Regions from separate parts of the Homo sapiens genome. Here all the other regions are linked to region 1. Evidence: fine-mapped expression QTL. A gene starts in region 1. Each other region holds a variant in brackets. All regions are shown on one strand. Distances are between the middles of the regions. Region 1 holds the start of LINC01659 (long intergenic non-protein coding RNA 1659). Region 2 has its middle 7.7 kb from the start of LINC02557. Region 3 has its middle 21 kb from the start of LINC01659.

Evidence for each region. PIP is the estimated chance that this variant, and not a neighbour inherited with it, causes the effect. A credible set is the group of variants that fine-mapping cannot tell apart.
Region 2: its variant is the best candidate, but not a certain one, in a credible set for the expression of LINC01659 in ileum (GTEx, PIP 0.54).
Region 3: its variant is the best candidate, but not a certain one, in a credible set for the expression of LINC01659 in sun-exposed skin (GTEx, PIP 0.65).

What each region holds. Positions count from the first base shown.
Region 1 is chr22:23,431,295-23,435,468 of GRCh38, forward strand. It overlaps LINC01659 (long intergenic non-protein coding RNA 1659), which reads left to right and starts at 2,270. Exons shown (of 3, transcript NR_110538.1): 1 at 2,270-2,767; 2 at 3,266-3,436; 3 at 3,530-3,777. RefSeq lists an enhancer at 1-791.
Region 2 is chr22:23,518,941-23,523,114 of GRCh38, forward strand. No RefSeq gene overlaps it. Among named protein-coding and RNA genes, the nearest start is that of LINC02557, 7.7 kb to the left of the region's middle. RefSeq lists a silencer at 2,842-3,201 and enhancers at 3,547-4,113, 4,114-4,174. The variant C/T (reference allele first, on the strand shown) is at 1,726.
Region 3 is chr22:23,452,976-23,457,149 of GRCh38, forward strand. No RefSeq gene overlaps it. Among named protein-coding and RNA genes, the nearest start is that of LINC01659, 21 kb to the left of the region's middle. The variant G/A (reference allele first, on the strand shown) is at 1,588.

The DNA.
Region 1 (4,174 bases):
TTATTCCAGGGCTAGTTTAACTCTGCTACTAAGACATGACCCTTCTGAGGTTCCTAGCAGATGACCTGGGTGCTCAGCAAGAACACTTGCTCTGGCTGGTCGGCATGTGCCTGTCCCCGGTCCTGCGTGACCTCTGGAGTTGTTCCCTGACAGCTCCCCGATGTGCTTGGTTCAGCCTTGTGGAGTTGCATGCTGTGTGCGTAGAGTGTATTACTCAGCAGCTCAGCGAGACCTTTCTCCAGGTTGCCAGAAGCCTTCTGTGCACAGCTCCGCCCTCCACAGATCCTCCCTTCCTCTCAGCAGGACCATCATGCTGAGCTTGAGCTGTACCCCACGGCGCCAAGCCTGGAAGAGACCACTGGGTAGAGCAAGGGGTGTTCAGAGGTTCACTTCATTTGTTTCTCTGTCTTTAGACAGCCCAGTGTCTGTGAACAGTTACTGTGTGTATTTTGTTCATTTTTCTAGTTGTTTACAACATGAAGGCAGACCTGGTCTCAGTTGCCCAGCATGACGTCCCAGATCCACATGTGAGGAGGAGCAGCAGCATGGGGGTTCCGCTGCGAGCTCAGGGCAGGGGTCTGTATTCCAGGAACTTGGGTGGGCTTCATAGACCCCTGTCGTTCCCAGAATTATAGGCAGCACGGAGTGTGCTTGTGCACACTTTCCTGGGTGGAGAGGCACACGGCACCTCACGCATTGAAGCGTTGTGGCCCCTCGGGGAGTTAAGACCCAGTGGGAGGAGGACCAGGGCGGGGGGCCTGGAGATGGAACCGCACCTTCCCATGCTGCCTCGCTAATTCTACAAATACTGTTGACATCCTGTGCGTGTGGCCTTGGGCAGAGGGGTAAAGACCGGGCAGCCCTGGCAGGGGCTCTGGGGCCAAGGATGTCACCTTCTGGGGGTAAGAGCGAGATGTCCTTCCAGAGCCTGGGTTTTGAGAGGAGGTCACCCTGGCCTGGTTAGGATGAGTTGTCATCTTTTAGCTTTTGGTTTGGTTTCTGTTTGTGTTTATTTTCACTTTTTGCCATGGAAAGTTTTAAGCATATATATAAAAATATGGAAAACAGCATCGAGAAGTCCCTGTGAGCCCATCCCACCCTCTTCCCCCTTCCTGGATTATTCTGAAGCAAATCCAAGGTATCGTAATCAATTTAGCTGCAATCATTCAAGTATTGTAGCATGTGTCTCTGAAAGGCTGGTGACTCCATAAAGCCCTAACCAGAGTCCTTTTATTGTGGTAGGACCTGGTCTCGGTGGGTGAGGACAGTGGGGAAAGGGGCAGCGTCCAGCAGGGTGACCACCTGTGCGAAGGAGAAGAGAGACAAAGCACCTGGTGTTGGACCAGACAGGGGGCTCAGGACCTTGGGCTGCAGTTGACCACGTGAGGCCCTTAGCCTCCAGAGAAGGAGCTGGTTTAACATGACCCATGGTTGTGGAGACCTTGCTTCCTAGGTGGGGCTGCCGTGCCCCTACCATCCTCCCACATAAGCACGTTACAGAGATCTGTGGAGCCAAGGGGCTAGTTCACCAAAATAAGACCTGGCCGTGTCCACCACTCTGCTGGTCTGGCTGGGGCTGCCGTCACAGAGCCCCACAGCGGGGGCTGAGACCGCAGATGTGTGTCTCACACAGTTCTGGAGGCTGAAATCTGAGATCAAGGGTCACCGGAGTTGGCCCCTGGGGAGGACTCTCCTCCCGGCTTGTGGACGGCCGCCCCTTGTATTCCTGTGTGGCCTTTCTCCTGTGCACTTGGAGAGCTCTGGTGCCCCTGCTGGATCAGGACCCACCCTTATGACCTTCATCAGACTTGACTTCCCTCCTTAAAGGTCCTATTTCCAAATACAGTCACATGGGGATTAGGTTAGTATCTAAATTTGGGGGACACAGTTCAGACTGTAACAGTTGCTCTGCACAGCCCCGCTCGGTTACATCATAGATGTTTGCACACATCTGTGCACGTGAACTACGTGTTATCTGTTGCACATGCAGCGTTACTAAACAGGGTTCCCTTATACCTCCCGGGGTTCTCGGAGTGGCGTCTTCTCTTTTGCTGGGAACCTTGCCGCCTTTCCTCTCCCTGCCCCTCCCAGCCCGTGGGCCACCTGCTCTCTTCCACGCCTTCCTTTCTCCTCTGCTTGTGCAGCGGAAGGTTCTGCCAGCAGGGGAGTTAGTGAGCAGCCAGTGGAGGGTGTGCCCAGCCTTCCTGCTGCAGACCCGCCCCCAAGTCAACACGGACTTCCCTCCCTGCGCGCCAGAACTTTGCGTTGTTCTTAGTGGCATCTGGGGTCGAGGAGGGCGACTGTCAGCCAGTTGGGGGATGTTTTCTTCTTGGTCTCTCGGCTTCTGCTTCCCTGTGAGCTGGGCAGCCTCAGCCCAGGTCCTATCCGGTACTCAGCTGGCCTCGGTGTGCACAGCGCAGGCTTGAGTGCAGCCGTGGGGGCGGGCGGGGCAGAAGCAGGGCCCCTGGGAACAGCTGAGTCTGAAGGGTCAGAAGCCACGGCCCCTGTGGGGGGCTCTGGGGCAGCCAGGGGAGCTGCTCGTTAGTCGTCTCTGGGGCAGAAGGAAGGGACCTTCACCTGGGTTGGGACTGGGCCTGGGTCCCCAGTCTCACAGGGAGCTCGTCCTGATTGTACCTGCCCGGCTGTGACGGCTGAGCCCGGGCTCCTGGAGGCAAGGCCACCTCAGGCCTCCAGGGCCGGAGCCGCAAGGAGCTGCTGGGTTTCCACAGGGCCACGGGGGCTGCGGCCACACGGAGCGGGAGCACAGGTGGGAAGGGTGTCTGTGAAAAATGAAATCTGTTGCCGCTTCCTCTAGCTTAATTACTGGCATGGTGGTTGCAGAGTTGAAATGCAGCTTTAAAAGCCTTTGTGAGTAATTAGTGTCAAACACACAAGATCTACAAAGCCATAAACTCACAGCTTGGTGATATTACCAAGTACTAATTAAGAAAGAAAAAAGAAAATTCCCTTTCATGATCAAATTTTGAGCCCTGCCAAAGATGAAAAACAAGGCAATTTGCAGCCGATGGCGACGCCGGAGGGTAAGTGGCGTCCACAGGAAGATGGCGGCCGAGCGCGGCGAGCAGGCAGGGTCTGGTTGAGGGCTGGGGTGGTGACGGCGTGATTGTGCCTGGCTACCGGGTTCTCAGCCAGGCAGCACCTGATTCCCAGGAGAGATGGAATCCCAGCTCAGAAAGGGGAGACTCATGCGAGGGCAGAGGCAAGGCACCCGCCCAGAAGGATTGGGGGTCTCCCCATTTCACAGGTGGGGACACTGAAGCTGAGCTCACAGCCAGGAGAGGGACAGCAGAGTGACGGCCGAGACCATCTGCACTGCGAGGGAAGCAGCGCCCACCTTCCTTGGTGGTCCGGGAAGGCCGGACCGGCCCCTTGGGTCCCCACTGGCCTCAGCCACTGTGGGCTCGTCCAGCTTCAGGTAGGCGCCCGGCCACTCACCTGGGAGGCTCTGAGAACGACAGCTTCTGTCTCGTGAGTGACGTGGTGCCCGCTTTCATCCTGGGGCCCACAGCTGCCAGGAGAGGCCAGGCCGAGGTCAGGAGGCTCAGCAGCTGGTTCCATGACTTCCTCTTCGCTGAGGAGGTCAGGACAGAAGCTTCTAGATGACAGGCCGCCCAACTTGGTATAAAACAGCAAATTTCTGTGCCTGTGCTGTCGGGCTGTGAATGACTTCTCGTCTGTTTCATGAGATGCAGCTTCAGCCCAGGGAGCCATCAGATGCAGCCGGGCGAGACGCGGAGCCAAGAGCTGTCCTCGCCCCCCATGTGAGTGACTGGAGAGACGAAATTCTCAAAGTCTTGTCACTTACGGGGATATTTTTAACCCAGGACCAGGGAAGCACAGCTCTCATTGGTGGCCGAGTGCTCTGGCGCTTGGGCAGTGGGCAGCAGCCAGGTTATCGGGACGTGCTCAGGCCCAACAGGACCCCCAGAGCCGCACCTGCCCCCCACAGAGTAGAGCCGGCCCGGGAGCGGCCTTGGTCACATCTAATCCCACCAGCCGCCGACAGTGGAGAGCTGTGCCTGGCCCAGAGATGTGGGCATCACATCCAGGCTGCAAACACACGGGGACCACCTGGCCCCGCCAGGGTTCGCTCTATCCTGGCTTGGCCTGCATGGCCTCTCGCCGTCTGCATGGTCCACTCACCCGAGTCAGG
Region 2 (4,174 bases), 88 kb after region 1:
ACAAAGCCTGGGACGGGAGCGGGGGGCTGGAGGGGCGCTTCTCCCACTAGCTCCTCAGAGGTGACAGCGCGGAGGAGGGGAGGAGAAGGGAAGCTGGGACAATCACGCTGATGTACGGCTTCCAGCGGGATTAACTGCACCATCTGGAGGCCACGCGTCCACCTGGGTGGGTTAGGAACCCCAACCCTTCGGTGTAAACGGCAGGGGGAGACTCAGTGGATGGCAGATCGGCTGGGGGCTGCCGGGTTGACTGTGGGGACCATGTGGGGCCCACCTGGCTTTCCTGAAGCCCCCATCTACCCCTGAGGATGTCTCCCACTGAGGGGGCTGGATCTCCACCAGACTCAGAAGATTCCACAATGGCTGGATCCAAGGGTTCAAATACAAAGGGAGGGCTGTGGCCTGAGCCACCAAAAAGTACAGGAGGTGAGCAGGAAGAGCGGGGGAACAACAGAGACAGGAGCAGCAGCTGGACACTCGCTCTCAGGGGTGTGTGATGGAGACTGCACCACCTTCCAGCTGTGTGTCCCCAGCATGTGGCTTCACTTCTCTGAGGCTCTGTCCCTTCATCTGTGAAACTGGGATCTAGTCTTTACCTCACTTGGTTGCTTTGAGGGTCGAATTAGATAAGGCAATGTACAGGCCTCGGTGGAGTGCCTGGCACTGAGTAAGTTCACAGTCAGTGGTGGTTGTGATTATTATCCCCATTTGCAAGATGGGAAGACTGAGGCTCAAAGCAGCTCAGGGACTTGTGTCGGATTACACAGTTGGTTGGTGACAGAACCCATGGCCTCTGCTTCTCCTGACCCCAGTCCAGTGCTCTTTTCCTGGAGGCTTGACCAAAGATGAACCTGTCCTGGGACACAGCCAGCCCCGGAGTGTCAGAGACCCAAGGTGGCCATCTTGGGTCACACCAGCTCCAATGACAGATTCCATGTTCTAGCACCTACTGTGCACCAGATGCCATGCCACGAGCTTCTGTGCACCACCGCCAGGAGCCATCACCATCTGTGACAGGGGCACTGCGCTGTCCCCGTCGTCCAGATGCACAAGCAGTGGTTTTGGCAGAGCCAGGATCCACTGCCAGGCCTCTCTGGTCCTGGAGTCCCCATTCTCAGCACAGGCTGCTGCCCGCTGGGCCAAGATGGGGCTTCTCTACACTGCAGCAACAGCTCCCAGGCGCCCTCCCACCAAGTGTTCATCTTCTCCTTCAAGGAGAGATGGCAATACAACACCCAGACTGCCACTGTGGACCCTAAGTCTTTCTTTTTTTTGAGATGGAGTTTCACTCTTGTTGCCGAGGTTGGAGTTTCACTCTTGTTGCCGAGGTTGGAGTGCAATGGCGTGATCTCGGCTCACTGCAACCTCCGCCTCCCAGGTTCAAGCGATTCTCCTGCCTCAGCCTCCCGAGTAGCTGGGACTATAGGTGCCCGCCACCCCGCAACCCGGCTAAGTTTTCGTATTTTTTAGTAGAGACGGGGTTTCACCGTGTTAGCCAGGATGGTCTCGATATCCTGACCTCGTGATCTGCCCTCCTCGGCCTCCCAAAGTGCTGGGATTACAGGCTTGAGCCACCACACCCGGCCCATGGACCCTAAGTCTTCTGGACACCAGACAAGCTTCCCCTACAGGGCGGGGTTCCTTTCTCACATCTAGAAAGAAGGAGGGAGTAGGAAAGAAGAAACATCAGCCCCAGCCCCTCCCTCCCTTCAGCCAGCACAGGGC[C/T]GCAGTGGGGGCCCAGGCTGGTAGGCAATGATGGCAGGGAGGTAGTTTGAAGCAGGGGGGTCCCCTTTCCCCGCACACCCTCCCTACATTCCCATCTGGTCAGCCTGCTCGCTGAAAGTTGAAGTCTGCCTTGTACAAAAAAACAAAAACCTCCCTTTCCAGTGTAGAAAGCCCCAGAGACCCGAGCCACTCTGCTTGCCTTCTCTCTTGGCCCTTATGGCCAGGACAGGGGCCGGGGAAATGACAGCTGCCCTGTGCAGGGGAGAGAAATCGTATTCTTTGGCTTGGCTCCTCTCTGGGGCCATACCCCAGGAGCAGCCCACGGAGCCGGTCCCCACTGACTCCCACCAGCCACTGCCGGGAGTAGGGCCAGATGGGGCGGCTCCGGATCCCGCCTCGCTCGGCAGGCCAGGCCCGGAGACCTGTCCCCCTGGTACCTCCCGGCCTGGCCATCCGAGATGACCCTTGCCCCTTCCCCACAGCCCAGACCTCTGATCCTTATTAAAAACAAACAAAATCTAGAGAAAAAAATTATCCACAAACAGCCTGAGAGATGATCGCGCGTCCCCGGCGCACGCAGACACGCACACATACACACACGCACACCCACGCGAGGTCGCCTCCACTTAAACATGCTGCTGGAGGGCGGGTTTTGTTTATGGAACATCCACGTTTCTCTCAACTTTGGGAGGGGTGAGGACTGTTTCAGAGTTTTCTGCTAGATGGGGGAGCCTGGGGCGGCAAGGATGTCTTTTCTGCTTTGTGCTCTTTGCCGGTTCAATGGGGGAGTGAGATACGTGGACAGAAGGACCAGGAAACCCAGGAAGGGGGCCCCAGGGCAGCACCCCCACCCCCAGGGGAGGTCAGGCTCCGGGAGGGCAGCCCCGGGGCCTGGGAAGCCTGGACTGCGCCTGAGCTCCGGAGGATAGGGCTGGTGGCCCGCGTCCCCTCGGCGACCCCGCGCTGAGCCCAGGGTCTGTAGTTCCGAAAACGTCTGGGACCGCTGGGCCGGGATCCCTACCCCCTCCTCTCCCAGCCTTCAACGCCTGGAAACCAACGAACCCGCCCGGAACAAAGGCAGGCCGGCTTTCCAAAGGCAAACAAAGAACAGTTTGTCTTTTCCCTCCCCCCACCACCACCCGAGCAGGCGGCGGGAATAGGCCTAGGGGTCCGGATGGCCCCGGCGCGGCGCGGCGCCAGGGCACTCCCACGGCGCCCCCCAAGGTCCCGCTGCGAATGCGCAGGTCGGGGCGCCGGAGGCCGCGGCAGACAGCGCGGCGCCACTCCGGCCCGGTCTCCGTGGCAACGGGCTGGTGGGAGGGGCCGGGCGGTGCGGGCGCCTTGGCCGCTGTTCCTCGCGGGCACGTCGCTATGGCAACGATGTTACTCTCTGCGGCCGCTTTCCGGCTCCGCTAGCTCGCCTGACCCTGGCCGCTCGAGCCCCCTCGTCTCTCACTTGCTGTGTTTTCCCCTCTTTTCCCGGGCGTCCTCCGCCTGTATCCTGGGCCCCCCAAGCAGCGAGCCCCGGTGCCCCCCACCCTTACCCCTCCTCCCCGGTGCCCAGGGCCCGGGAGGGAGATTGATGGGGTGTGCTTATTAAAAAACATTGTAACCGCCGGGCGCGGTGGCTCACGCCTGTCATCCCAGCACTCTGGGAGGCCGAGGCGGGTGGATTACAAGGTCAGGAAATCCAGACCATCCTGGCTAACACAGTGAAACCCGGCCTCTACTAAAAATACAAAAATTAGCCGGGCATGGTGGCGGGCGCCTGTAGTCCCAGCTACTCGGGAGGCTGAGGCAGGAGAATGGTGTGAACCCTGGAGGCAGAGCTTGCAGTGAGCCGAGATCGCGCCACTGCACTCCAGCCTGGGCGACAGAGTGAGACTCCATCTCAAAAAAAAAAAAGAAAAAACAAAAAACAAAAAAAAGAAAAAGAAACATTGTAACCGTTTCTGTTTCTATTACGTTGACAAGGGAGCGTTATTTACTGTTACTGTTTGCCCAGCAGGCTGTGCCGGGCGCGGGGGTCTCCCCCGGGAGCTCACCTTCAGGCCGCGGAGGGCGGGGGCCGGGCTGGGGCGCGGGCAGGGGGCGTCGGGCGACCGTGCACCCCGGGGCCCTGCTCCTCGCCCCTTCCCCCACCAGCCCGGCCGGGCCCCGCGGCTGGGTGCGTTGCCGCGGGGAGGGACCTGCAGAGGACCAGTGACTCTCCCGTTGTAGGAGAAAGGCAACAAAAAATAAAAACGGCACAGATGACTTCATTCTCGGGAAGGCTCGGTCCTACATGGACCAATTTCCTGGGGACCGTGGTGGAACAGCTTCGCTGCCGTTGGAAGCACTTAAAACTGAACCAGATAAAGACCAGGACATTCTGGGCCCTGCTGAACCAAGCCAGGGCAGGCTGCGGGGCGTGTGATTTCTGGCCAGGTGGGGAGGCGGGTGGCCTCCC
Region 3 (4,174 bases), 22 kb after region 1:
GTTCTGTGCACTGGCCCCTCCAGGTGCTGGGGTCCTCTGTGGCCGTGGCGTTCTAGGAGAGATGGGCAGGGAGACGCTGGCGCCCTGTTGTGTAGCTTGTCCTTGTGTCTGCTTCACAGGCTCTTCCACTGTGCAATTTCCTAAAATTTTGGCGAGGCCCATTTATCCATTTTAATTTTATTCTATGGATTGTGCTTTGGTGTTGAGTGTCAGAGCTCTGCCTCATCCAGATCCTGAAGATTTCTTTTTTAAAATAATTCTGTGTTTTACATGTAAGTTCATGATACAGTTTGAGTTAAATTTTATATGAGATGTGAGGTTTCGGTCAAAAAAAAATTTTTTTTTAACTAAGTGTGTCCAGCTGCTCCGGCTCCAGCTGTAGCAAAGACAAGACTGCCCCTCCTCCACTGAAGCACCTTTGTGACTTTTTTGTGACTTTTCTGTATCGATTAATAGGATCATATGTTGTTTATTCTTTAGCCTGTTGATATAGCAGATTACATTGATTGATTTTCAAATACCAAGCTAGCCTCGTACACCTAAACTAAGTCCCACTTGGTCACGGCATAATATTCTCTGTTAGAAAGTGGCCTGGACACGTCTGTGGGTCTCTTTCGAGTTCCTCTGTTCTGTTCCGCTGGTCTCCACATCTCCCCTCCAGCGCTGCCCCAGCCATGTCTGTCTGATGTAGGAGCTGTATAACGCTGTGCTGTAGCTGTACAGTTCTCAACATCAGGAAGGGCAATTCCCCTACTCTTCTTTTTTGGAATGGCTTTCCATATACATTTTAGAATAATCTTGTGTCTCTCTACCAAAAAAAAAAAAAAAAAAAAGATGCTGGCCAGGCATGGTGGCTCACACCGGTAATCCCAACACTTGGGGAAGCCAAGGCAAAAGGATCGCTTGAGCCCAGGAGTTGGAGACCAGCCTGGGCAACACAGGGAGACCCCATCTCTATGAAAAAAACACAGCCATGAGTGGTGGTGCGCACCTGTAGTTACAGCTACTTGGCACGTTGAGGCAGGAAGATTGCTTGAGGCTGCAGTGAGCCAAGACCACACCACTGCACTCCAGCCTGGGTGACAGAATAAGACCCTCTTTCCAAAAAAAAAAAAAAAAAAAAAAAAAAAAAATATATATATATATATATATATATATATATATGCTGAGGTTTAGACAGCAATTACCTTAAAACCAAAGATCAATTTTGGAAAAATTGATTTACTATAAGTCTTCCAGTTCATAAACATTGTATCTATTTATACAAACATTCTTTTGATTCCTTTCATCAGTATTTCCTAACTTTCTGCAAACAGACACTATACAAGTTTTTGTTAGATTTATACCCAAGTATTTAAGATGTTCTGTAAATTATATTGCCTTTTAATTTTGTTTTTCACTTGTTTGCCATTGCTTTATAGAAATGTGGTTAATTTTTGTATGTTCATCTTATTTCCTGCAACCTTCGTGAACTCACTTAGTGTTCGAGGAGTTTTCTGCAGATTGCTCAGGATTTTCTACATGGGCTGTCACGTCATTCTAGGAGTTTTCTGCAGATTGCTTAGGGTTTTCCACGTGGGCCGTCAC[G/A]TCATTCTAGGAGTTTTCTGCAGATTGCTTAGGGTTTTCCACGTGGGCCATCATGTCATTTGCGAGTAGGGACAGTTCTGTTCTTTTCCAATCCCTATGCTGCTGCTTTCCTTTTCTTACCTGCATGCCCTGGCGTGAGGAGCTCCCATGCTGGGTTGAGGATGAGTGGGGAAAGCCAGCTCTCCGCTGACCGAATGAGGGAAGGCGGCCAGACTCCTCCGTGAAGCAGCGTGAGCTGAGGGTTCTTCATGGTGCTTTTTACCAAGTCGGAGGACTTTCCCTTGATTCCTGCTTTGCAAGAGTTCTTGTCAGGAATGGAGATTAAATTTTGTCAAATGCTTTGCCTGTGTCAATAGGATCATATCATTGTTTTCCTTTAGCCTGTTGATAGGGTGAATAACATTGATTGATTTTCAAATTTGAACTAGCCTTCGTTGTACACCTAAACTGAATCCCACTTGGTCAGGGTGTGATACTCTTTTTCGTAGATTGCTGGATTCCATTTGTTAGTACTTGTTGAGTATTTTTGCATCTAAGTTCATGAGAGACTGATACTTATTTTTCTGTGTGTGCGCACCATCCTTGTTGGTTTCAGTACAAGGTTAATAGTGGAAAGGTGTTTCCCTGTCTTTTGTTAACTGAAAAAGGATTGTGTAAAATTGGTATTAATTCATATTTAATGTTCGGTAAAACTTTCTAGTGAAACCATCTGGGACTGGAGATTTTGAGTAGCATTTTAATTACAACAAACTCGATTTATTTAATGGTTATAGGACTACCGAGGCTATTTTATCTTGGCACGTTTTGGTAGTATGTGGTTTTCGACGAATCCGTCCAGTTCGTTATGAGCATCAAGTTTTGTTGTAGTATTTTTTATTGTTATTTTAATAGCTTCTGGATCTATTATAATATTTCCATTTCATTTCTGATATTGGTCATTTCACTCTCCCCCCTTTCTTTTTTTTGAGATGAAGTCTTGCTGTGTTGCTCAGGCTGGAGTACAGTGGCATGATCTCGGCTCACTGCAAGCTCTGCCTCCTGGGTTCATGCCATTCTCCTGCCTCAGCCTCCCAAGGAGCTGGGACTACAGGCACCCACCACCACACCCAGCTAATTTTTTGTATTTTTAGTAGAGATGGGGTTTCACTGTGTTAGCCAGGATGGTCTCGATCTCCTGACCTCGTGATGCCCTGCCTTGGCCTCCCAAAGTGCTGGGATTACAGGCGTTCCCCCTTTTTAATCTTTGTCAGTTTTGCGAGGGGTTTATCAATTTATTGTTGCTGGTCTTTTTAACAAATTTTTGAGACAGGGTTTCACTCTGTTGCCCAGGCTGGAGTGCAGTGGTGTGATCATAGCTCACTACAGCCTCAAACTCCTAGGCCCACGTGATCCCACATACCTGGGGCTACAGGTATATGCCACCACACCTGGCTGATTGATTATAGAGATGGGGTCTCACTGTGTTGTCCAGGCTGGTCTCAAACTCCAGGGCTCAAGTGATCCTCTCACCTTGGCCTCCCAAAGTGCAAAGATTACAGGTGTGAGCCCCTGCTCCTGGCCGGCCTTATTGCTATTTTTTAAAGAACCAGTTTTTGGTTTTAATAACTGTCTTTTGTTTTCCTATTCATTCCTACTTTTATTATTTCCTCCTCCTGCTTCGGGCTTGTTTCTCCCTGCGTTTCTTGAAGTAGGAATTTAGAGAAGCAATTTGAGATCTTTCTCCTTTCCTGATACTGGCATTGAGTGCTGTCTGTTTCCCTCTAAGCACTGCCTTGGGTGCGTCTGGCAAATTTCATTATGCTGTATTCTTGTTTCCATTCTGTTCTCTTTTTTATTTCCTTCGAGGCATCCCATTTGACTCGTGGATTACTTAGAAGTGTGCTGTTTGATTTCCAGGCACTTACAGTTTTCCTGTTGTCCTTCTCTGACTGGTTTCTGGTTTTGATGTCCACTGGTGTGGCCTCCACCTCTTCACACCACCCCACAGATGAACAGCATTCACATAACTTCCCAGTATCTCGAAGTAGCATCGTTTCCATTTCCTGCGTGTCTTCTCATTTTACTGCATTATTTCAGCTTTGCTTGTTTGAGCCAGGATTCAGGGCTTCCTTCATTCCATCTCTAGCTTCCTCCCCTTGAGTTTCCCCGTTCATGGAGTTTCTCTTGGACCCTCAGCAGCAGGGGGTCTTGTTCTTGACAGGAATCCCTCACACTTCCCCCTTGGCCTCCGAGCCCCACCACATCCTGCAGTTGGTGGTGTGTGGAGAGAGGCGCTGTCTCTGCTCTCCAAGCACTTTGTCAGCCTCCACCCCTCCCTCACTCCGTGCCTCTTGTCCGTGCCCGCTGGGACACCATGGGGCTCGGCTCGGGATGGTGGGACCAGCGCTTAGTAAGACCCCTCAGCCCTAGGCACCGTGTGAGCACTGCTCACGTGGCAGAGCTGGAATGGGGGCCGGGCACACACTCCCTGGCCCACGTGTTCCACGGACGTGCTGCAGAGGTCCCCGGCCCTCCAGGGCAGGCCCTCTCTGCTTCCAGAGGGGCAGGTGAGCCCCAGGCCAGGCCAGGCCAGCCGGGGTCTGGACTG